7 linked regions of the Homo sapiens genome follow. The protein of the gene in region 7 interacts with the protein of the main gene of each other region in a pairwise test. Each region holds a gene or a part of one and is shown on either strand. Other genes may lie near its edges. The genes, in order: TM4SF20, C11orf24, SLC35A3, TM4SF5, FAM3B, CPNE3 and MEP1B.

Region 1 (3,500 bases), on a different chromosome or scaffold from region 7:
TAACCCCTGGCCAAATTATCTTGAGTGCTTTTGAAAAATACTGATGCAGAATCTCTGGCGGCCACCCAGGCACTGGTATTTTTTTAAATCTCTTTAGATAATTCTAATATCCCCATCTGTCTTTTTTTTTTTTTTTTTTGAGAGAGTCTTACTCATCTGTTGCCCAGGCTGAAGTGCAGTGATGTGATCTCGGCTCACTGAAACCTTTGCCTCCTGGGTTCAAGAGATTCTCCTGCATCAACCTTCTGAGTATCTGGGATTACAGGCATGGGCCACCGTGCCCAGCTAATTTTTGTATTTTTAGTAGAGACGGGGTTTCACCATGTTGGCCAGGCTGGTCTTGAATTCTAGACCTCAAGTGATCCTCCCACCTCAGCCTCCCAAAGTGCTGTGAGCCACCGTGCCCAGCCTAATGTTCCCATCCATCTGAGAACCATTGCTCTGAAAGCTCAAGCTCAGCCAAGCAGATTTACTGTGACTGCTTGCTGTCAATCTACCCCTTCCACAGGGAATTGTGAGAGTCCTTATGTTGCTTAATAGCCATGTTCATGGTATAAAGATCATGAATTGTGGGGTGCTCCAGTGGGTTTGGATAAAAATCCACTTACTAGTGTGCTACACTGGCAAATTATTTACTTTCTCTGAGCGTCCATTCCTTCGTCAATCAAACACACTTCTTACTTTTTCCCACTTAAGGGTTTTGAGAGAATTAAATGAAACAGCATCTCTGAAAGTGTTCTGAGCAGAGTGACACTCCGGTTAATGAATCTTAATTTACTTTTAACTTCGTTACGACTTTATACATAGTGGGTAGGCATTAAATGTTTTGGGGGAAAAAAACCTGGCAGCTCCTTTAATTTAACTGGATAAAGGCAATTGTCATTCTAATCCTAGCAAACCAGTCTGTCATTGCATGAGAGAACTGAGTACATTTTCCCTGAGTATTTTATATACGCCACAAAAATATCACACCCGAGTATTATGAAATTGATTGCAGCTGTGGGCGTGACTTACCAATCTCCTTTCTTTGAAAACCTTTAGATTGAGGAAAGGACAATCCACGGAAGACTGAGGAAGGGACAGAAGGCCAACTCTAAATGTTTGTGGGACAAAAAAACCCGTCTCACTTTTTCTACTTCTATATAATCATCCTAAATAGCATGTTTCAGGCCAGGCGCAGTGGCTCAAACCTGTAATCCCAGCACTTTGGGAGGCCGAGGCGAGCAGATCACTCGAGGTCAGGAGTTTGAGACCAGCCTGACCAACATGTTGAAACCCCCATCTCTACTAAAAATACAAAAATTAGCTGGGCGTGATGGTGTGCACCTGTAGTCCCAGCTATTCAGGAGGCTGAGGCAGGAGAATTGCTTGATCCCGGGAGGCAGAAGTTTCAGTGAACCGAGATCGCACCACTGCACTCCAGTCTCAGCAACAGAGCAAGACCCTGTCTCTAAATAAATAAATAAAAATAGCATGTTTCTAAGGCTGTGGCTCTGTCAGTGGAGCCCCACTGTGATTCGGTAGATGCGAGTGACTCAGTGTGGCTTTGCTTAGGTAGCAATAACTGTTCATGCACTTCTGCTTCCACGCCGACTGCTTCATACTTACTCCAGTTCTGTTGTTGCAGCACGCTCTTTTTCTTGCTGTCAAGGACATTGTTGTTGCTGGAATGGCCTGGAAATGACATCAACAGGAAAGATGAGTATTATAACTTCTCATCAGAAGAAAAAATAGTAATCTTCACCTTCCGTTTACCACCAGTTGTGGGAAATCAAGGCTCAAAGAACAAAAAGGGAATTTGGCAATATCCGTGGTTTTGTGAACCTTGTCATCCCAGTTTCAACCAGAAAGATTAAAAGTGGCGGCGGGAACAGGGGAATTCAAGACAGGAGTTTTGAAGTCTTCTATCTACATTCTTAGTTCACTCTGAGTCATCTGCAGAGAATTGGATTTTAAATAGATTAGGATGACTTATTTATACATTATTTTTGGAAGAAATGTTTCTGAAAGAATTGGCTGCATCATCCAAACTCTGTTGTTTGTTTGTTTAAAGAGTAGGGGTCTCACTCTCTTACCCAGGCCAGAGTGCAGTGATACGAGCATAGCTCACTGTAGCCTTGAACTCCTGGGCTCAAATAATCCTCCTGCCTTAGCCTCCTGAGTAGCTAGGACCACAGGTGTAGACCACCACACCTGGCTAATTTTAAAAATATTTTTGTAGAAGCAAGATCTCACTCTGTTGCCCAGACTGGTCCTGAACTCCTGGCCTCAAGAAAACCTCCTGCCAAGAAAACTAAAGATGTGAGCCATTACGCCTGGCCCGATTTCCCAGAAATTGTATGGATTATTCTGGCAAACCTGCAGAAAAGAAATTGATGGTTTTGTTTGCCTGGCAGTTGGGAACAAATCATTCTGTCACCACCCACTCCCACTAGCCTTTCTTTTCCCAGGATCCCGGCTATCTTGCTGGTTTCCCCAAACTTATATTTGAGAATTATTTTTGGTTCCACGTTCTCCTTTCTCTTCCTATATCCATGATATGTAATGATCTCACTTTATATATTGATGCTCAGAAATCTATAGATCGCATTCTGCCTTCAGGGAAATACACGTTGCCAAGGAAAGCTGTAAGAAAGAACACCATATTCTCAGGACTTGGGTTTCAATTTTTAGTATATCTAGGCAGCAGCTACGACTAGAAATTCTTACTGGAAGGAGTTTTGTATCATTGAAGGGTGGAATGTAATTATTTCCTTCCGCTTGAGAAATTTTAGGCGTAGGTTTTTTTGCCATCTCAGCACAGCTGCCCTTGAGTGGTTTTTCTCTCTCCTTCTACTCTCATTCTCTAACATTTTCCCGAGCTCTGGCGAATGCCAGACTCTGTTACAGGCACTTTACACGCCTTAGTTTATTCCATCCTCATAATAATCCTATGAGGTAGGTGCTATTATTATTCCCATTTTACCAATGAGAAAACTGAGGCATAGAAAGGACAAATTACTCAAATTGTCCTTCTACTTTCTTGGTAGAAGGGTTGGGATTCAAAACTAGTCATTTGGCTGGGCGCGGTGGCTCATGTCTGTAATCCCAGCACTTTAGGAGGCCGAGGTGGGTGGATCACGAGGTCAGGAGATCGAGACCAGCCTGGCCAACATGAGGAAACCCCGTCTCTACTAAAAATACAAAAATTAGCTGGGCGAGGTGGTGCACACCTGTAGCCCCAGCTACTCAGGAAGCTGAGGCAGAATTACTTGAACCTGGGAGACAGAGGTTGCAGTTAGCTGAGATCATGTGACTGCACTCCGGCCTGGCGACAGAGCGAGACTCTATCTCAAAAAAACAAACAACAACAACAAAAAAAGCTAGTCATTTGGGGTGCAGAGCCCACATAGTTTTTTGTTTTGTTTTGTTTTTTTGAGACAGGGTCTCACTCTGTCACCCAGGCTGAAGTGCGGTGGCATGATCACGGTTCACTGCAGCCTCAACACCCAGGGCTCAAG
Region 2 (3,500 bases), on a different chromosome or scaffold from region 7:
CATTAGAATGAAGGAGAGGGCTTTGCTTTACAGCAACTTGGGCCGGCTGTGGGGACCACTGCAGTCTCTGAAGTGGGTCAGTCACTCATTCACTCATGCCTTCATTCATTGAGAGAGCCTCTGTATCAGGTGCCTGGATCGCTGCCCCTCACTGGCTGCCCCTGCCTCCCCTCTTGCTAAAAGCACCTTTCTGTTCTTGTCTAAGGCCCCGGAGGGACTCGCATCCCCCTACTGTGAAATCTAAACTGCCACATGGCTCATGGGGCCTCCTCACGCTCTCCAGACTAATTCCCGCCTCACCACGCTCTTCCTTGCCTCTGACCCTGCTGTTGTCATCTGCTGCTCCCTCTCCACCTGCCTGCCCACCCCCACCCAGCTTTCAGAATGCGGCCCAGGCATCGCTTTCCCAGGAAGCCTTCCTTGGCATGCCGACCACACCACCACTGGCTGAACTGTGTCCTCTGGGCCCCTGTGGCACCCTGTCCTCTGGGGCCCAGCCACCCTTGGGGCTTCTGCCCAGAGTATCAGCCTACCTCACTCTTCAAGGCCTGCCCGCATACTGTCTCCTCCTTGCTTCCCAGCACTGAGTCACACCCTGCACAATGCTTGTGCCAGCCTGCAATGACCTCTTTTCTGTGTCTCCCATGGACTGCAGGTCCCTGAAGAGCTTGTGTGTTTTTCACCTTTTTGTCCTAAGTGTACTGCCTGGCACATGAGAAAGCACTAAGTAAATATTGGATGAAAGGATGGCTGGGTGCATGGATGGGTGGGTGGGTGGATGGATGGATAGATGAACAGATGGATAGGATATGGTGGGTGGATGGATGGATGAGTGGGTGGATGGATGGGTGGATGGATGGATGGATGGATGGATGGACTTATGGATGGACAGGTGAGTAGATGGATAGAATAGTGGGTGGATGGATGGATGGATGGATGGATGGATGGATGAGTGGGTGGATGGATGAGTGGGTGGATGGATGGGTGGGTGGATGGATGGATGGATGGATAGATGGGTAAGTGGGTAAGTGGATGGATGGATGGGTGAGTGGATGGATGGATGGACAGATGAGTAGATGGATAGAATAGTGGGTGGATGGATGGGTGGGCGGGCAGGTGGATGGATGAATGGGTGGATTGATGGATGAATGGTTAAGTAGTATCTCCCATGTGAAAGGCACAGTCACCTGTCACAGGGTGCACATGGGGTGCATTAGGCTTGATTTGTACTCTGCAGACTATGGGGGAAGCTGAGGAGGAAGACTTGACCAGTCTTGGTGATGAGAAGGCCTTCACCCTATGAACACAACCAAGTCTTAGCCCTCTCTCCTGCTCCTTTAAACTCTGAACTCTAGGATGGGAGAATGGGAACTTTTGCAGGTTGAGATTCATAGTGAAATCGGGTCAAGAAGTGATCAGATGCAAAGCACAGGGCAGTTCATTACTATACCATGGCTGAGGTCTTCCTGGGCACCAGGCCCTGGTCTCAGCACTTGGCTCAGTCTGCACCTTGGACCCTGCCAGAGCCCTCCACAGCAGGTGCTCTCAGGCAAGGCTGTGTGTTGCTGGCCAGACGCCTTCTGACCAGCGTGCTTTCTTGACCACAGATCCCTTGGCCAAGCAGGAGGGAACCATTAGCAGCCTGAGGAGCTGGCTGGCTGGGAGCCTCGGGGACCGCCCAGCCTTGCTCCCAGCTCACCCACAAGATGTGGACAGCTCTTGTGCTCATTTGGATTTTCTCCTTGTCCTTATCTGAAAGCCATGCGGCATCCAACGATCCACGTAAGTGAGAAAGCTGTGTGACTGCTGGATGGGCCCACGGTGGCCACAAAGCATGCTGAGCCCTTGAAAGCAGCATCTGCAAACCCAGGCCAACGCGTCAGGAACCGCAGCCCTCCCAGGTGCCGCACAGGGAAGGGTTGTCAGGCCAACCTTCCTTCTCCAGGGCCATGGTGGGCAAAGAGCCCCTAGCAGGACCAGGCAGCTGAGCCCTGAAAGGTTTGCTCGCTTGGCCTGCAAGATTTGATGTCATCTCTAAATTGAATCTTCACTGGGGAATTGATTCCTTCATACATCAGATCTTTAACTGCGTTCCCACTCTGTGCCATTCATTTCCAAGAATTCCTGCAGTGAATCCTTTCACAAAGCCAAGCGTTCTTTTATGATGTGAATACCTGTGCAGTTTATCTGCTTTGTAAACCTGGGTGTGCGTTCAGTGGGCTTTTAATGGTGAATCACACCTGTTGTGTGAGACTTTTACTCTGATGTTTTGGGAATTGGATCAAATAGTGAAGGTCTGAAGCCTTCAATGGGCAGGGGGTTCATAGAGGGCAAAGGAGTTTTAAAATCAAATTGACAAGGGCTTTTTCAATGAGCTGCATGCCAACAGTGGGAAGAGAGATGGGGAGGAAGCATGTTCGCACATCACCTCCCCCGACTCTGGCTGGGCTGAGGAGGGGGCCCCACAGGCCTGGGTGGAAGCCGATCCCTGAGCAATCCCCCTGTGCAGGATTGAACATGATTGTCTCTCTTTTTCTCCTTTTTCTGACTTTAAGGCAACTTTGTCCCTAACAAAATGTGGAAGGGATTAGTCAAGAGGAATGCATCTGTGGAAACAGTTGATAATAAAACGTCTGAGGATGTAACCATGGCAGCAGCTTCTCCTGTCACATTGACCAAAGGGACTTCGGCAGCCCACCTCAACTCTATGGAAGTCACAACAGAGGACACAAGCAGGACAGATGTGAGTGAACCAGCAACTTCAGGAGGTGCAGCTGATGGTGTGACCTCCATTGCTCCCACGGCTGTGGCCTCCAGTACGACTGCGGCCTCCATTACGACTGCGGCCTCCAGTATGACTGTGGCCTCCAGTGCTCCCACGACTGCAGCCTCCAGTACAACTGTGGCCTCCATTGCTCCCACGACTGCAGCCTCCAGTATGACTGCGGCCTCCAGCACTCCCATGACACTTGCACTCCCCGCGCCCACGTCCACTTCCACAGGGCGGACCCCGTCCACTACCGCCACTGGGCATCCATCTCTCAGCACAGCCCTCGCACAAGTGCCAAAGAGCAGCGCGTTGCCAAGAACAGCAACCCTGGCCACATTGGCCACACGTGCTCAGACTGTAGCGACCACAGCAAACACAAGCAGCCCCATGAGCACTCGTCCAAGTCCTTCCAAGCACATGCCCAGTGACACCGCGGCAAGCCCTGTACCCCCTATGCGTCCCCAAGCACAAGGTCCCATTAGCCAGGTGTCAGTGGACCAGCCTGTGGTTAACACAACAAATAAATCCACACCCATGCCCTCAAACACAACCCCAGAGCCCGCCCCCACCCCCACAGTGGTGACCACCACCAAGGCACAAGCCAGGGAGCCAACTGCCAGCCCAGTGCCAGTACCTCACACCAGCCCAATCCCTGAGATGGAGGCCATGTCCCCCACGACACAGCCAAGCCCCATGCCATATACCCAGAGGGCCGCTGGGCCAGGCACAT
Region 3 (3,500 bases), on a different chromosome or scaffold from region 7:
AAAAAGAACTGTGACCGATTGGCTATAATATATTGAGTAATTTTTTTTAAATTCATGAAGACATGGTCTTTTTTTTAAAGAGGGATATTAGAGAAACAGGAGGGAAATATACTTTTTTATTTTAAAAAAGAATATAAACTAATAAATGTAGAAGAAATTTAGAGCACTAAAAAAAATTTATCACCATTTTGCACCCCAGTGTAATAAATGATTCAGTCAAGAATCATCAATTGATGCTAAAGGCATTGGGAAACAGAATATTCTCCTGGTGCTAAAACATTACTCCATAGATTACTAAGGGTGAACAAATGACCTTTACCACAGGGAGAACTTTACAATAACCTTTACAATGGGGTAGTCATCATCTTAACCAAATAATTACCAACATTAATAATGAGATTATCTGTGCCTTTTAATATGATACAATATAAAATCTGTGAAATATTTTTACCCAATACATTTAACCTGAAGGTAATCAAACCTATAGACTTGACTTCCAGTTCAAAGGACATGAAAGGAATAAAGGGAACAAATCAAACCACATAATAGGAGCAAAGTAACTTTGGTCCTTCAAAGAGTACTATCATGGGGAGAAAAGTCATTAGAGGTAGCATTTTCAGTCTCTTGGTATAAAAAAGCCATTGAGGGGCAGGTGGTGGTGCAGGAAGGGGACTTCAAGACCAAAGGAGACAATCAAATACAAAGCATTAACCTTGATTTTACCCTCGTTCCAAAACAAAAAAGCTATAAAAAATCATTTTTGAGACAACTGGGAATACAGTTGACTCTTGAACAACAGATTTGAACTGCATGGGTCCACTTATATGCAGATTTTTTTTCAGCCAAATGCAGATGGAAAACACAGTTATTTGCAGGATGTGAAACCCACCCATAGGGAGGGCTGACTTTTCTTATACGCGGTTTCCCCTTAAGGACTTGAGTGTGCCCAAATTTTGGTATACACGAGGTGGGGGTCCTGGAACCAATCCCCCACGTTTACAGAGGGGCAATTGTATTTGAATTTGAACTTAGATGAAGTGACCTGAATTAATTTAAATTTTCTTAGGTGTCATAATGGCACTGAGGTTAATTAAGAAGATGTCCATATCTTTAGGTCACGCATGCTGGAGTATGTAGGGGTAAAGTGTCCCAACAGAGATAAAGCTAGTGTGGCAAAATGTTAATAATGGTTGGATTTAGGTGGTATACCAATTTTTCAATTTTTTTGTATGCTGCAAAATGAAAAGCTGGAGAAAATTTAATTTTAAAAAAGGTTCTTTAACAATGCCGCATGTGTGAGTTCATGGAGGTAGCCCATGAGTTTTTTAAAGCTAAATTGGCACAATCTGTCATAGCATGATTGAAGCCATTAAAATGGCAATATTATAAAAACAAAACATTGAAAACAAAATGAAACTTGACACGAGGGAAATGGAGAAAAATAATATGAAATAATGGAAATTTGAGGCATTATGTGTATATAACATCCAAAATAAGTGTGGCAGGTTTTAAAATTCTAGAATTCATAGCAATATGACTGGAACAGTTATAAAATGAAACATGGGCACACATCTTTCATGATTTTCTATAATTCTATCATCACTCAGGAAATATTACCCTGCCTTGGCTATATTTAAAAGACCTATTGAAGCAGCATGCATATATTAAAAAAGCACTTAGCATCATCATTTTAAAATGCTGTATTTACTATCCAAGCAGAATAAAATAAAACTTTAGCCTAAAGGGAAAAACTTAATAAACCCTCAATTATTAGAAATCATGTTTGTACATGCAGTATCTTTTAAAAGACCAAACACACACACACACAGATTTTGTGTCTAAATCACACAAGTCTGATTTAGTACATTTAACTGAACCTCTTAAATACTCTACATTTAAAGCTGGGGTGTCCAATCTTTTGGCTTCCCTGGGTCACCCTTAAAGAAGAAGAATTGTCTTGGGCCACATATAAAATACAGTAACTAATAATAGCTGATGAGCTTTAAAAAATTGCAAAAAAATCTCATACTGTTTTAAGAAAGTTTACAAATTTGTGTTGAGCCACATTCAAAGCCATCCTGGGCTGCATGCAGCCTGCAGGCCGCGCGTTGGACAAGCTTAAAGTATATTTTAACGTGAATTTTCAGTGATTATCACTAAACACTGTAACAATATTCATTATTCTTTTAAACCTGCAGTGAGTTCTACCTTTAAAATGAGGAAAGTGTATATCTAAGATAAACTGTATATTTCCAAAAGAACACCATGTTATTTGTTTTAAACAAATTACCTCTAACATTTTAGAAATCCTAAATGAATGAATGAAAATAAATGCATTAAACGAAAAACACCTGATTCTCAGGTCCAAGGGAGGAAAATGTGATCCTAACACTAGTGAAGCCCTACTGTGAGCCAAAATAACAACTGGTATCAGGTTTTAGCTCTTCCTTATAATGGTGATAGGAATGCCTAATTTAAAATTAGTTCAAAATTGTTTATTAATATGCAGTACAGGTAAAAGGTTTATAAACCATGTTTTAAATTTGTAGTTTAAAATAGTCCAGCATTTATAAAGTTGTCATTAAACATAAGAAGTGAAAACTAAATGACAATACTATGCTCTCTCTCTCTCTATATATATATATATGTTCTTAACACAATATCTGATTATAAACATTTTTCCACACTAGATTCATGTTATGTTCAGAATCATTTGACAGATATTCTAAAATTAAAAATGACAATGTATAAATTAAAAGTCTCTGGGCTGGGTGTGATGGCTCATGCCTGTAATCCCAGCACTTTGGGAGGCCAAGGCCGGCAGATCACCTGAGGTCAGGAGTTCGAGACCAGCCTGGCCAACATGGTGAAAACCCGTCTCTACCAAAAATACAAAAATTAGTTGGGCGTGGTGGTGAGCACCAGTAATCCCAGCTACTTGGGAGGCTGAGGTAGGAGAATTGCTCAAACCCAGGAGGCGGAGGTTGCAGTGAGCAGAGATCGTGCCGCTGAACTCCAGCCTGAGTGACAGAGCGAGACTCCATCTCAAAAAAAAAAAAAAAAAAAAAATTAAAAGTCTCTGAAAAGAAGAATTGTCGTTGCTTGTATCATCCTCATCAATTCAGAAGGAAGTGTATAGAGATGAATGGTCTTTGTGTAGTAAGAAATTTGGCCCATCCAAAGAAAGTTCTGGTGTAAGTCTTTGGGAGTTCTCACTGATAGGAATGTCTTTATTATTCATTGTGGGTTCCTTAGACAACACTTGACAGTTTATGCTAACGAGATAACCTATGGTGAGGCCCTGAAGTCTTGATGTCAACCAGATCTCCAGGGAGGGGCAGATGTTGGAAAGAGAGGACAACTACATGGGCAAAAAAATCAACCAACCATGCCAACTAATAGAGCCTCTCTCAATAAAAATCTGGACACCAAAGCTTAGGTGAGCTTCCCTGAATGGCAATACTATGTGTGTACTGTCAAACATTGTGGTCAGGAGTAGA
Region 4 (4,284 bases), on a different chromosome or scaffold from region 7:
GGCAACAAAGGGAGACCCTGGTCTCAAAAACATTTTTTTAATTAAAAAAAAAAGAAGTCGACTGGGTGGCTTGGCTCATGCTTGTAATCCCAGCACTTTGGGAGGCTGAGGCAGGTGGATCATTTGAGGTGAGGAGTTTGAGACCAGCCTGGCCAACATGGTGAAACCCCGTCTCTACTAAAAATACAAAAATTAGCTGGGTGTGGTGGTGGGCGCCTGTAATCCCAGCTACTTGGGAGGCTGAGGCAGGAGAATCGCTTGAACCCAGGAGGCGGAGGTTGCAGTGAGCCAAGATCACGCCACTGCTCTCCAGCCTGGGCGGCAGAGTGAGACTCCGTCTCAAAAAAAAAAGAAGTTATCAAGGAAACTGCAGCACCCCAACAAAAACAGAACTTCTTTGACCTCAGAATGGAAAAATGGCAGAAGCTGATTCTCACAGAGTTGGCTCAGATCGCATGGCTGTTGCTAAATCAAACACCGAGGCTAGCAGGATAGAACGCTCTCATCAATGAGGCCTAGGTCCCGAGCCCACCCTGAGAGACAGGCAGTGGCCTCAAGAGGAGGAGACATCAATAATCAAATACCAGGAAGACGAAATGCAAGGACAATAAGAGCCCACAATCACCTCTTTAATTTCTCCCTGGGAAGAATGCTGCCTGAGAGGCTGGCAGAAACGAAGAGGCCACCACACATCTGCTCTGTGCTTCCTAGTTTACAAAATACTTCTCAGGTTGTCCCATTTAATCCTCACAAGTAGCCCACAAGGCAAGTGGCATCACTTATTTATTTATCTATTTATTTATTTATTTATTTATTTACTTTTTGAGACAGAGTTTCATTCTTGTCACTTTATTTACTTATTTATTTATTTTTCGAGACAGAGTTTCACTCTTGTCACCCAGGCTGGAGTGCAATGGCACAATCTCAGCTCACTGCAACCTCCACCTTCCAGGTTCAAGTGATCCTCCTGCTTCAGCCTCTCGAATAGCTGGGATTACAGGTGCCCGCCACCATGCACAGATAACTTTTGCATTTTTAGTAGTGACGGGGTTTCACCACGTTGGCCAGGCTGGTCTCAAACTCCTGACCTCAGGTGATCCACCCTCCTCGGCCTCCCAAAGTGCTGGGATTACAGGTGTGAGCCACCGTGCCCAGACACAAGTGGCAACTGAGACTTAAGAGACATGAAGGGGCTTGGCTAAGTTGCAAAGCAGGTATGGAACCAACAGAGGGGCTGTGGAGCTGTGCAGAAAAAACAGGAAGGCACTAACCCAGGGTAATGTGTCCATAGCCCCCACCTTGTCCAGCACCACATCCTCCCTTCACCTCAGGGCTGCAGCTCCTCCGCCTCTGCCTCCTCAGGGCCCACATCCTGTGCCTCTCTCCCTTATCATTCTGATCCTGCCAGTTTCTGCCACGCCTCTGTCTGAACTTTGCTCCGTGCTCCAGGCTTGTTTTCCTCTGGACCTGGGAACCACTGGCTTACTTTCACTCACCGCCTGTCCTTCCTGACACCTCACCATGTGTACGGGAAAATGTGCCCGCTGTGTGGGGCTCTCCCTCATTACCCTCTGCCTCGTCTGCATTGTGGCCAACGCCCTCCTGCTGGTACCTAATGGGGAGACCTCCTGGACCAACACCAACCATCTCAGCTTGCAAGTCTGGCTCATGGGCGGCTTCATTGGCGGGGGCCTAATGGTGAGAAGGCTGGCAGGGGAGCCCGGGCCAGCTGGCTGGGTGCCACCTAAGGGGTTCTGAACAGGAGGGAGAGGGAGAGAGGAATAAGAATGGTTGCTTGGGAGAGGATGGCAATGGCTTCGTGGGGGCTAGCAGCCCTCTGGAGTCAGTCCTGGAGGAGCCCCAGGGTCCCAAGCTGAATGTCTGTGGGGCACAGAAAGGACGAGAGCCTCACTGCTCTAAAGAGCTCCCCTACCGGGTAGGGAGCATGTCCTGCCTGTCCTCCCTGTCCCCACTGTTGAGCAGATGCTGGGAAAACCTCACTACAATGGTCGAGGCAGAAGGAGCAGCTGGTTGTCAGAGACGTCATCGGGGCAGGATAATAACAGGCATGAGGGTGGGGCGCAGTGAAATTACCCAGAGCCAGGGACTGCCCTCACGGATCAGTCACCCTCGCTTGCCTCCACGTCCATTCACTCTCACCCCACATTTCTGGAAGCCCAATCTGTGCGGACTGCTAAGGATAAACTCAGAACTTAGGTCAGTATGGCAGGGAGGATGCCCTCAAGTCGTCTTCCGGGAGATGAGAATCTATTTGCCAGGGGCGGAGGTGGGGGTTGGTTTTTGTGTTTGTTTTTTGTTTTTTTTTTTTTTTGAGACAGGGTCTCTCTCTGTTGCCCAGGCTGGAGTGTGGTGGTGCGAACATGGCTCACTGTAGCCCCAACCTCCTGGGCCCAAGCAGTCCTCCCACCTCAGCCTCCGAGCAGCTGGAACCACAGGTGGGCATCACCACACCCAGCTAACTTTTAAATATTTTATTTATTTTTATTATTATTATTTTTTTGAGACGGAGTCTCGCTCTGTCGCCCAGGCTGGAGTGCAGTGGCGCCATCTCCGTTCACTGCAACCTCTGTCTCCTGGGTTTAAGCAATTCTCCTGCCTCAGCCTCCTGAGTAGCTGGGATTACGGTCACGTGCCACCACACCCAGCTAATTTTTGCATTTTCAGTAGAGACAGGGTTTCGCCACGTTGGCTAGGCTGGTCTCGAACTCCTGACCTCAGGTGATCCGCCCCCCTCGGCCTCCCAAAGTGCTGGGATTACAGATGTGAGCCACCGCCCCAGCTTACATTTTTTGTAGAGACGGAGTATCTCTGTGTTGCCCAGACTGGTCTCAAACTCCTGGATTCAAGTGATCCTCCTGCCTCAGCCTCCCAAAGTGCTAGAATTATAGATGTGAGCCACCACGCCTGGCCAAGACTAGGATCTGTCAGAAGTGGAGGAAAAGGAGACACAGATTTCCCCAATTTACTAACCCCCATCTTCCAACTCTCCACCCATTCAGGGAAACTTTGGGATGGTCAACCTCGTTTAATATCTTCATGCGATAAAGACAAAAGATCTACCCAGCACAGTTCCCCACTTCTCAGGACAGTTGGCTAATGACATTCTCCAGGGGAGAGCTCCCCTTGGTCCCTTTTGCTGGTCACACCTCGCTGGTCACACCTCTATTTGCTAAAAGAGGATACCTCTCCTTTAACCAACAATCCCCTCTTACTCTCTAGTATCTTTTCTTCTACTCCCTCCTCCTGCATGGATTCTTGGCTGCTGTACTCTACTCTATCGCTCTAAACTCAACTCTCTTTGAGAGTCACACTCCTCTCAGGCTGACACACTTAGCCATTGTCACGGGGTGCTCCCTCTGCAACCTGAACCACCCCTGTCTCCCCACACTCCTCTGCCCCATCTAACCAGCTTGCTTCAGCGGAGCTCCCTGAGTCTGCCTTCCCCAAATATGCATTCACAGCTGCCTTCCCTCCACCTCTGTGCCCAGAGTCACTCTCAAGAAGCACCACCCGGTGGGCATGGTGGCTTACGCCTGTAATCCCAACACTTTGGGAGGCCGAGGCGGGCCAATCACCTGAGGTCAGGAGTTCAAGACCAGCCTGGCCAACATGGTGAAACCCCGTCTCTACTTAAAGAAATATACAAAAATTAGCCAGGCATAGTGGCGGGCGCCTGTAATCCCAGCTACTCGGGAGACTGAGGCAGGAGAACCCGGGAGGCAGAGGTTGCAGTGAGGCGAGATTGCGCCATTGTGCTCCAGCCTGGGCGACAGAGCAAGACTCCATCTCATACATAAATAAACAAATAAATAAGCACTGCTGTATATCACAGGGACACAGACAGGTTCCTGCTCTCCCTGAAGCTTGTGTTCCCTTTGGTAAGGCCACCAGTCTCACGGAAGCAAGGCTGGAAGTCCCACGAGAGCAAGCACTGCCTGCTTTGTTGGCCACTATGTACCCAGTGCTAGACCAGCACCTTGCACTAAACAGACACCCAATTAATAGTCATGGAATGGCAGCGTGTGCCTGTAGTCCTAGTTTGGGCCCAGAAATGAAAGATTGCAGTGAGCTATGACCACGCGCCACTGCACTCCAGCCTGGGCAACAGAGCAAGACCTTGTCTCAAGAAAATAAAAAATAAAAAAGTCATTGAATGAAGTATAGAACTAGGCAAGGCAATTTCAGATAGAAGTAGGTACCATCGGCCGGGCGCAGTGGCTCATGCCTGTAATCCCAGCACTTTGGGAGGCTGAGGCAGGCGGA
Region 5 (3,500 bases), on a different chromosome or scaffold from region 7:
GCTGGGGCTCAGGGTACACAGGCCTACTACACAGGCCTGCCCAGCACTCCCACCCTTGGACCCAGGACACTCACCCAAAGGGCTGGTGCTGGCGTCTCCAGCGGGGCCATTGTGGGGGTCCCATAGGGATGCTCTCCCCAGGGACTTCCCCTACGGGATCGGCAGCAGAACGAGCAGGTCCCCACGCCAGGGCCTGGCAGCCCGTCAGCCATGAGCATGGCCTCCTCCCCAGCTTCTAGACTTGCAGCCCCTGGCGCTCTGCAAAGTGAGAGTCCTGTTTCGTGTGGACATGCGCAGGAGGGCTTTCCAGAAGGGAGGTGTTTGATGTGCCTCATATCCTCCAGGGAGTATGTGGCTTTAGTGACTATGGGTGACACACAGATGGGCATTTGTGTTTCCTCACAGGGCCTGGGAGTGGGCAGGGAACCCATGTGTCATTTAAAAAAAGAGTCAGTAGCTTTCTGAGTCCCCCATCCGTTTCCCAGAAGCACAATGTGTCACCACGTGAATGAAGAAAGAAGACCATGTTCCTAACTCAGTGTGGGATTGGAGGGTGGACACAGCTCCTGGGAAAACACAGCTCTTTCCAAACCCTGCCTGGAGAACCACATCTAGGTCTTCAGTGCTTTTCCTGAAATTCCTTCCCCCAAACAATCAAAAGGTAAAGTTCATGTGGCTTACGTAGAAGCCAGTGTCCTAGCCAGGGAGAACGGCGGACCTTCTATTTAGTCTCCTGTTTCTTATGCCTCATGAAAAGCTGGTTTGTTTAAGACTGAAAGCCTCCAGCAGCAACACCATTCCCTAGGATGCAGTCAGCCTTCTGCTATCAGTTTCAGTCTGAGAAATTATTCTCTTGCTGAGGAAAATCCACCTGGTTCCTCATCCTCACGAGCAGCTCCTGGTTTATAATACAATAGCTGCTTCACCCAGCTCTGAAAGTAGCGACAGCAATGAGAACCCAGCTATAGAGCTCGCACAGCCTTGCGTCCGGACTCTCCTGGTGGCTTTCCCCAGATATGCTGTAACCACAGGAATATGTAGACTGGGACTTGGAAGGGTGGAGAGGAGGTTTTATGAAATTTAGATACAAATCACAAAGAACCTTAGATTTAAAAGAAACCATAGTGACCGTTTAGTTCCAGGATGATCAAATTTGGCTCTGTATGAAGCCAAGTTTTAAAACAAATTAAAATAAATACAGGTTCTTGGCTTCCACCCTGGACCTAGGGAGCTTTGAATTTCCCAGAGTGGGGTCCAGGAATCTGTCTTTTAAAAATACTTCCTGATTTGGGAACTATGATCTCATTTTAACTCCTATAAATGAGGAAGATTATTCCAGAGGGTAGGAGATCCATGCAAAGTCACTAGAAATATTGAGTCATGAAATAAGATCCTGACAATATAGACCAGGCAAACAAAGAAGGTGGCTGTTTGCATATGGCATTTTGACCATTTCAACTACCTCATTGTTCTATAGGAGATTAAAAGTCCAGTCCGCAAAAACCAAAGACCAGAAGCCATCAAAGAGTGTTTCTCTGCTAATCAATGCTCATGATTTATTAGGTGCCTCTGAGTACAGTGAAGGTAGTATGGCTGGGTGTGCATTTGGCACCCAAATGCTTCTTTCACCCCTTCCCAATTGGAGTTGTATTCCAAATGCATATATATGTTTTTTGTTTTGTTTTCTTTTTGTTTTTGTTTTTGAGAAGGAGTCTCTGCCACTCAGGCTGGAATGCAGTGGCACAATCTTGGCTGACTGCAACCTCCACCTACTGGGTTCAAGCTATTCTCCTGCCTCAGCCTCCCGAGTAGCTGGGATTACAGGCACCTGCAACCATGTCCAGCTAATTTTTGTATTTTTAGTAGAGACAGGGTTTCACCACGTTGGCCAAGCTGGTCTGGAACTCTTGACCTCAGGTGATGTGCCCGCCTCGGCCTCCCAAAGTGCTGCGATTATAGGTGTGAGCCACTGCGCCAGGCCCCAAATGCATATTTTTGTTCAACATACGCTGCACATTAATTTTCTTTGTTCAGTTTCCTAACATTATGATTTGGCTTTTAAGTTCTTCTCTAGTAGACTCTGAGGTTCTTAGAAGTAAAGGATGAACCTTAAAACACGTGCACTCAGACCACGGCCCAGAGAGGGATGCTGTTACTAAATATACCTGCTGAATTAATAAATAAATGGACTTTCACAGTAGGCATTTCCTTCGGCGATAATTCAGTCTGTCCCAGAATGTGTATTGTAAAATAAGATTGAAACCAGGAAGTAAAGAACATAGTGATCAGTGTGACTTACAGATAATCTATGTATAAAGCACAAGGACCTCGTTTTCCTTGTTTCTTCCCTGTTCCTGTGACTTTACTGGCCACTGGATGAATCCCTTTGGTCCTGGCCATACTCTCGCCCTTGTGTAACCACAGCCTGCCCAGCTGTGGCTGATCATGGCCTTGCAGGAATGAGGGCCTGGGGTATCAGAGCTTCTACTGTTTCAAGAGATGCTCTAACATGGAGTTTTATGGGAGATCTCTTGATTTTGAAATACTTGTCCATATTTTATGTGTTTTGCTTTTAGACAAATCTTGTCTCTGACAGGTCTGTCTCTGGGCCCCCAGTTTGCAACTCATGTGCTGTGGACTGAATGTGTCCCCCTGAAATTCATATGTTGGAACCTAATCCCCAGAGTGCTGGTGTTAGGAGGTGGGGCCTTTGGCAGATGAAGCCTTCAGGAATGGGAGTAGTGCCCTTATAAAAGGAGCTTCAGAGACCTCGTTTGCCAGAAGGAGCCATCCATGAAGCAGAATGCAGGTCTCCACCAGACATGAAATCTGCGGGTACCTTGATCTTGAACTTCCCAGCCTCCAACACTGTCAGAAATAAATGCGTTGTTTATAAGGCCCCCAGTCTATGGTGTTCTCTTACAGTAATCTGGGTAGACTAAGTCATGATGCTCCCAAACTGGCACACAGCCCTCAGAACCCAGCATGGCCCACTCCCTTGCTTCACTGAGATGCTTCTCAATTGTCACCTCCTTCTCAGAGGCTTTCCCCACCCATCCTCTCTCGAATCTCATTTGTTCATGCGTTAAGCTGTCACCTCCCCTCACTAGGGTATCAGTGCCAAAGGGGCAGGGACCTCGTGGGCTTGTCCTCCGTCTCTCCTTAGCTCCTGGACATGCCCAGCACACAGCAGGCTCTCAGAAAACCCACCTTGATTGTGGGGAAGGACAGAAAGCAGCCGCCCTACAGAGAGCTGGGCCTTTCCTAAGCTGATGGTTGAGGCCGTGTGTTCACCGACATACAATGTCTGCCCTTTCTTTCACATCTACTCAATTACTAGCTTTTGCTTCCCAAGACTTTACAGAAGATTTTCCAACAGCTCTTCAGTCCGACAGAAACCTTAAAATGATTCGGGATCTCAGAACCTGGACCCTCCTGTGCTTCCCAGGGGAGGAAGCCAAGATCTGGGCGGAAAGAGCACAGTTCAAGGTCTGGCTGCA
Region 6 (3,500 bases), on a different chromosome or scaffold from region 7:
AAATAATTTGGCAACTGCCAAGGACATAGATATGCTAAGAAATAGTTTTTATTTCTTAACATAAATAGTATTTAGTATTTATAAATAGTATTTAGTATTTAACATAAATAATATTTAGTATTTATAAACAGTATTTATAAAACATGTCATCTGGGCTTCAATCACTCATACAACTTATGCCTAATGAATAAGCCCCAAGGAAACCAGACTAAAGAAACAAGAGCCTTGCTGACATTCAGTCAGGAAGTAAGTAGCAAACTATATGTAATATAAAGCAAAGTACATGCCATATATGATAACTAATCACAGAAAGATATTAGAGATCTAAGGTAAACAGCAAGATTGCCACAAGGAGAAAAATAGAAGATAAGACGGGGGGATTTTAGGGAGAAAGCATCATCAACCTACCACCTATATCAGAGTGCTAGCCGATGAAACAAACTACCCTTTCTGGGGAATTGTGAAAACATGTATTTTAGTTTTTCCAAAGTCATACTCACGCATCATAATCTTGAATGACCAGTCCCACAGACCAGAGAGCAGTCAAATACTCATTAACGCCATTGGGGCTGATGTAATGAAGGGAGTCTGGAGACCTTGGGTCACCATTGGAGCCAGTGAAGTCCACTCCCACCTGCCAAATAACAATTGCAGCCCTTAGTAAGGAGAAGGCAGGGACACCTGTGCTTGATGTCCAGGAAAACTTCAAGAGATGGGATACAATCATGCATCCTGGCGCCTACTTCCTAACAAATGCCTACCACTATTTCCATAGACAATTAAACAAGTAAAGCCTAAATGTGAAACAACCTGATGCTTCTACTTTTCTAGATGGCTTAAATAATGAATTATTGTATCCATTACTTAAGCTTAAGGGTTGTCTTTTATAAGGTTGTCTCACTAATGCTTTCTAGTCCTTAAATTAGTTCAGGATAACCACTAGTTTGTAGGTTTGTATACATCTGCTTTCTCTCAGGAGGAAGAGATCTCATCAACAAAACTGAGAGCTTCATGATGAGCCCAGACAACCTGCCTGAGGACTCTAAGAGGACTATGCTAAACAGATTGTGAAAATTTCATTACAAAGTCAGTTTTGCAGTGAAAGAAAATATACTGCAACATGGAGGAAAAAGCCTATGCTGAAAAATTCAGTGTGTTACTTACAGTAAAATTCAGCTGACATCCTCCCATTATATAGTCAAGGAATGTGCATTCTACTGTAATCTAAAAATAAGAGAAAACTTAAAATTACAACTCTCCTACTATACAAGAGAAGCAAAAAACTCTTTGGCATATATTTTTAAAAGTCTGTAAATTGAACAGGACATGATATAAACATGGAAATTACCCCTGCATTCAGGTTTAAGATACCCCTTCCCCTATGTGCCATGAATCTGTAAAATTCTGCTTCAAGATAATTGTAGCAATGTTAAGATTAGAATACTAATGGCGAAAGATGAAATACACTCATTTTAAGTTTTAAGATATTAGTAATGAATCCAATATGTTGAGGGCTTTAAAAAGCATAGCAGTCAACATTTTAAAAAACAAAAACTCCATTCCACTTGTTCACCCTAAAAAATCTTGGCTTTTCCCCTTTACTCATAACATTTTATATTGAAAGTATGAAGAGGATAAATGCATTGGGTAAGGTCATTTCCACTAAAGAGCTGAGAAAATACTATGATGCTTTATATTTCCTAAGATAACGAAAAACTTATCCTTGTCCTTTGCAAATAAGTTGTCAAACCTTGGAAACAGGTTACTTGATTTTTTTGTTCTTCCCTACTTGATTCTTTTTGCTAAAGGTGACCAGATGCTCATGTGATTTTCAACTGCCTGAAATTCAAGTATTTGTTTAATATAAACATACTAACAGGAGAACTTGAAATATAATCTCATTATATTATAAGTAGCCAAGGCTTGGGTCGGATGCGGTGGCTCACACCTGTAATCCCAGCACTTTGGGAGGCCAAGGTGGGTGGATCACAAGGTCAGGAGTTCAAGACCAGCCTGGCCAACATGGTGAAACCCTGTCTCCACTAAAAATACAAAAATTAGCCAGGTGTAGTGGTGGGTGCCTGTAATCCCAGCTACCTGGGAGGCTGAGGCAGAGAATTGCTTGAACCCAGGAGGCAGAGGTTGCAGTGAGCCGAGATCACACCACTGCGCTCCAGCCTGGGCAACAGAGCGAGGCTCCAGCTCAAAAAGAATAAATAAATAAATAAAAATAAGTAGCCAAGGCCAACGGACCTCACACTGTTTCACACTGATAACACCTGAATTCTTGTAGCTTTTTTTCTTTTGCCTTTTTTTCTCATTTATGCATTCAAATTCAACCTGTAGGAAGAGAAGACAAAAATGTTACTTTTTATTAGCAATATTAGAAATGCCAATGTGACTTTAAATGAATGACTTTTTTTCCTTTAGAATCAAACTACCTACTGATGTAGGTCTGTTGCAAAATATAACTCTGAAACAATTACATAATATGTTAAGTATGTGGAATATTTATCAGGTAAATTTCCAACAATTAAGGCACTCCTAAAATTGCATACCTTTCAAAATATTTCTCCCAAATAAATTTTACCTCTGCAGGTAATTTCCTTGCAAATGTTCCAAGGCATAATCTTTTTTCTCTTTGCTGCATATTTTACCATAGAGTTGGGCCCTATGATATAACATGGTATAATAAAGGAAATAAAATATTACTCCTAGCTGTTACCAACATAAAGAACGAAAATATGCTGCAAAGAAAAGAAAAAAAAATAACATCATAAAACAAATATATGAAGCCCAACTCTATGGTAAAATATGCATCAAAGATCTTCTCTTTCCACTGGGAATACATGTTAAAAATTGATCTAACACCTCCTCTTGTTTATATTTCCTTCCCCCAAAAGAATGATCTTCCTTCCCCTTCCTATCCCCCTATCCATCTTTAGGGCTTGGCTCAAGTTGTTCTCCTCTGTAACTTCCACTGCTACTCTAGTCTTCTCTGATCTCTATCTACCTCTTTAAATTTCTACAACTATATGAAATTTAGTTACATACTCTGTGTTATTTTCAAGTGTCTCATTTAATTTTTTCTTCACAGTGACATTATAATCACCTCCAACTTATACCTTCAAATTCTCACTGTCTTGCCTAATAATAATATAAGAGATATTCAATAAATGCTTGATAAGTCACCTCTTCTGGTTAACACAAAGCCACTTATGTACTTCAGACAGTCATTACTAGTTTTCCAAGAATCAAACACTAAAAAATACACGTGGTATAATACAATGATGTGAAACAAAATTATGTTAAACAAATTCTTTGATGGTTCAGGATCTTGCTGGAGTCTCAGTCACAATCATAAGTATTAATTGTTGAGTATTAGAAATTAAAGAAAGGAAAAACAATAAAAAATTATTATATATTAGAGCTAAAGAAATTCCACAAACCGAATTCTCATTGAAAAAGGGCTAGATTACTTCACTTATTCATTTATACCT
Region 7 (3,433 bases):
CATGGGACACTGAGAACTAAACTTTCTCTGTTATCTGTGCTATCGGCCTTTCCTAACTTGGAGATACTGTTTTAGTATCAGATTAGGAGGAATTCCATTTTTTCTTTCCATTGTTTATACCTGTGCTCTAGGTGCTAGTCTCTCTCCAGTCCAGAGTGGGTAAAATAGTTTCATATAGCAATGACCTATTGGTGATCAAATAGACTAAAGGTGATCCACATCTTTAACTGTGAAGATTTCTGGAGTTAGATATCAACTAATAACTCTGAGTCATGCTCTCAACATGCAGGTGCCAGTCAGGGGAAGACTGGTGGTACATGGGAGAAAGGTGTGAAAAGAGAGGCTCCACCCGAGACACCATAGTCATTGCTGTTTCATCTACTGTTGCTGTGTTTGCCTTGATGCTGATCATCACCCTTGTCAGTGTCTATTGCACCAGGAAGAAATATCGTGAAAGGATGAGCTCAAATCGACCAAATTTGACTCCGCAAAATGTAAGTTGAGGCTGATGTTTGATTATTCATAACCTATTGGTGAAATCTTATGGAGAGGAACTAGGACATTTTTTATATACTTTGGTTCTTGCCTTCTTCTCTCTGTTTCCTATGCTGGGACAACTGATTTCAGATTATAAAAGTTCCTATTACTTTCACTGTAAATCAACGATTCTTAAACTGGGATTTATGGAGGTTCATTATCCTCCTGGAATTGTATACAACATTGTGTACAGTTGTGTGTGTGGGTTTTTTTCCTGGAGTGTGGGGTGGTCTGTGACCTGAAAGGCACAACTGATTTTGCCTGAAAGTTCAAACCTTCCTGGTAAAGGGAAGAGGTGGCCTGCAAGTGTTTTTGTTCTAAAGGTCTTGTAGTGGTGGTGAGCTGAGGCCATAGGAAGGGGATGCAGGCATGTTTGGGGAAGCTTTTTCATTAAAGAAGGTTCCAGTTCATTCTGGCTTCATGTGGAATAACTAATTCTAAGGCAAGTTTTCAAGTAAAGGATTTAAAGTCTTGCCTCAAAAAATCTCTAGAATGCTAATAGACTCCTGAAACGATCCTGTTTCCAGTGGGTCCCTTGGGAAGCTGACTCTGAGATGGATATTTGTACGCAGGAGGTTTATTGGGGAGGGCTCCTGGAACACGTATAATAGGCTGAGGGAGCTGGCCTGGGCAGAGGGTGAGGTTGGAATGTGATGTGGTTGCAGCTGAGGCCTCAGCCCATCCTTCAGGGAGCTCTGGAGTGGGGATGACTCCCTCTTAGGCACGTCCTGAATCGAGGGAGGGGGCCAGGCCTTTGTACTCCCATCACTGGAAGGGGGCTGCCCTCAAAGAGGGGGCATAAAATTGGGCAAGGCAACGGCCTTTGGGGGAGGGCATTTCTTGCATAACAGCCTTCATTCAAAGGGCAGGACAAAGCAGCAGTTCCCTAGCATCCACTACATACTCCAGCAGTAGAGTACAGAGTTTTACATGCAGATTCATATTCCTCTCAAAGAAGCACAGAGAAAGTGGCATAAAATCTGAGCATTACTTAAAAGTGAAGCCCTAAAATTCTTCCATTTCTATTTCATTCCAATTGGAGTCTCTGAAAATTGCTACTGAAGCCAGTCAGAAAAAATGCCCAATTAGAATATCTCCAAAAATAAAAATACTGCAATTGGCTAAAGCAAGAGTACATTTTCTTAAGAAAAACGATTATTCAAGACATACTATATTTAAAGCTACGAGTTTTTAAAGGGGACAGCCTGGTATCAAGTCAGTCAAAACATGAACAATGATAATGAACTGAAAGCAAATCGTTGTATTATCGTAGGCTGTTGTCCTATTTCCTCAACATCAGGAAGATGTTTAATGCTAATAATAAGGCAATAGATCAATTACTTCACAAAATTATTAGAAAAGTATTTAAAATATAAACAGGTTGTTTTGTTTTAAGACAACTTTCAGCTTATTTTATGACTCAAAATAAAAGGGGAAGATCAGTGAATACTTGGCCTGGTAGGTCAACCTGATGGCAGCTGTGCCTGCAAGTTCGGTCTCCTGGGCCATTGGGATGAGCCAGGAGTTGGTGCATGGAAGGTGGAAGAGTAGAAGGGCAGGAGGGGACAAGTTAACTGGGTGGATGGGATTGCCAGGATATTTCCCTGACAATGAATGGGTAGTGTAACAGCTGTTATAAGCAAGTATAAACTTGCTTAGCAAGTAAAAACTGGAAGGAGTTAAAGAAAAATGACAAAACCAAAGAGAAGAGAAAGAAGGAAGCTAGGAAGCTAAGTCAATAAAGCAGGGAAACCATGACAGTATTAGAGACATGGTAAGGATAGTAAGTGGAAACACACATGCACACACACACACACACACACTCCATAATATTACAACAGAGCTGTTTTGTTTCTGGGTCATTTAAACACATTCCTAAGGACAAGGCAGTTGACTTACATTATCTTAGGCTAGGCATTTCTACAGCTAATTCACTGGTAACAGATCTCCCAGATGTCGTTTAGATCTTAAATCAGAATGACCTTTTTTTCTGAGGCGAATGTATGTGTTCACCCTAATGTTTTAGCATCTGAATAATGTGGGCCCGAAAAGCCAGGGCTCGAAATGGAGACCAGGAGCAGGAGCCATTGCCAGCTAGGAGGGAGGCCAGGAGACTGCTGATGGGGACTTCATTTAAAGACCAGATCATTTTATTATGATTCATTTAAATAGCAGTTTTTAAATTTAGAAATTAAATCATCAATTGTTCTTTCCCCTTTTAGCAGCATGCTTTTTGAAGATTAACTCGACAATATGGCCAGCTAATGAAATTAAAAAGGATTCTTCATCATGGATTTCGCCTAAGTGATATTACAGCCACCTCATTCTTCTAAAAGTGGATATTTTTCTGTAAATAGCTGGAAATATTATAAATCACTATTTTGGTCAAAGTCAAATTGGTGAAATGCTGTTTGTGTTTCCTTCTTTTAAATGAGAGAAAAGCAATTCAGGCTCTTCTGGAAGTATAATATTGTCTAGAAAAAAGGGAGAGCAACAGTTAGAGATGGCTTTTCAAATTACTGATCCTTCCATATGGGGGCCAAGTGTGGTGTCCTCACAAGTGATTCCTTAGAAACCCACTAGAAACACCCAATGGGAATGATCATCCATGCAGAATCACAGCAGTTTCAGTGCCATCCTTTCCCAGCATTGGGAAGGGTAATGAGACAGCTCCCCACTCTCTGTCAATATACATTCTTCTCCAAAACTGGCTACTCTTGTTTTCTTATATAATCCCTTTGGTACATGAGCTTGGTTTAGAATTTGTTTGAGCATACGACTGTAATCAGCAAGAAAACCTTTCACTCTTTGAGTGGCAAGTCTCCAAGTTTTGGATCTCAGGAATCTTTACACTTTAAAAATTACTGAGGATCTCAAATAGGTTACTGAGGATCTC

The links.
Region 1: the proteins of MEP1B (region 7) and TM4SF20 interact in a protein complementation assay, tested with the Homo sapiens proteins (one study listed by IntAct).
Region 2: the proteins of MEP1B (region 7) and C11orf24 interact in a protein complementation assay, tested with the Homo sapiens proteins (one study listed by IntAct).
Region 3: the proteins of MEP1B (region 7) and SLC35A3 interact in a protein complementation assay, tested with the Homo sapiens proteins (one study listed by IntAct).
Region 4: the proteins of MEP1B (region 7) and TM4SF5 interact in a protein complementation assay, tested with the Homo sapiens proteins (one study listed by IntAct).
Region 5: the proteins of MEP1B (region 7) and FAM3B interact in a protein complementation assay, tested with the Homo sapiens proteins (one study listed by IntAct).
Region 6: the proteins of MEP1B (region 7) and CPNE3 interact in a protein complementation assay, tested with the Homo sapiens proteins (one study listed by IntAct).

What each region holds. Positions count from the first base shown.
Region 1 is NC_000002.12:227,369,307-227,372,806, forward strand, and holds part of TM4SF20 (transmembrane 4 L6 family member 20), read right to left. Parts: intron 1,675-3,500; coding exon 1,609-1,674; intron 1-1,608. UniProt on the Homo sapiens protein: Polytopic transmembrane protein that inhibits regulated intramembrane proteolysis (RIP) of CREB3L1, inhibiting its activation and the induction of collagen synthesis.
Region 2 is NC_000011.10:68,261,974-68,265,473, reverse strand, and holds part of C11orf24 (uncharacterized protein C11orf24 isoform 1 precursor), read left to right. Parts: intron 1-1,607; 5' UTR 1,608-1,706; coding exon 1,707-1,782; intron 1,783-1,790; exon of another isoform or gene 1,791-1,901; intron 1,902-2,555; coding exon 2,556-3,500.
Region 3 is NC_000001.11:100,028,996-100,032,495, reverse strand, and holds part of SLC35A3 (UDP-N-acetylglucosamine transporter), read right to left. Parts: 3' UTR 1-3,500. UniProt on the Homo sapiens protein: Transports diphosphate-N-acetylglucosamine (UDP-GlcNAc) from the cytosol into the lumen of the Golgi apparatus, functioning as an antiporter that exchanges UDP-N-acetyl-alpha-D-glucosamine for UMP.
Region 4 is NC_000017.11:4,770,402-4,774,685, forward strand, and holds the start of TM4SF5 (transmembrane 4 L6 family member 5), read left to right. Parts: upstream 1-1,484; 5' UTR 1,485-1,521; coding exon 1,522-1,698; intron 1,699-4,284. UniProt on the Homo sapiens protein: Acts as a lysosomal membrane arginine sensor.
Region 5 is NC_000021.9:41,323,301-41,326,800, reverse strand, and holds part of FAM3B (protein FAM3B isoform a precursor), read right to left. Parts: intron 1-3,500. UniProt on the Homo sapiens protein: Induces apoptosis of alpha and beta cells in a dose- and time-dependent manner.
Region 6 is NC_000008.11:86,545,435-86,548,934, reverse strand, and holds part of CPNE3 (copine-3), read right to left. Parts: intron 2,341-3,500; coding exon 2,254-2,340; intron 1,225-2,253; coding exon 1,165-1,224; intron 635-1,164; coding exon 501-634; intron 1-500. UniProt on the Homo sapiens protein: Calcium-dependent phospholipid-binding protein that plays a role in ERBB2-mediated tumor cell migration in response to growth factor heregulin stimulation.
Region 7 is NC_000018.10:32,217,472-32,220,904, forward strand, and holds the end of MEP1B (meprin A subunit beta isoform 1 precursor), read left to right. Parts: intron 1-289; coding exon 290-494; intron 495-2,759; coding exon 2,760-2,774; 3' UTR 2,775-2,933; downstream 2,934-3,433. UniProt on the Homo sapiens protein: Membrane metallopeptidase that sheds many membrane-bound proteins. Exhibits a strong preference for acidic amino acids at the P1' position. Known substrates include: FGF19, VGFA, IL1B, IL18, procollagen I and III, E-cadherin, KLK7, gastrin, ADAM10, tenascin-C.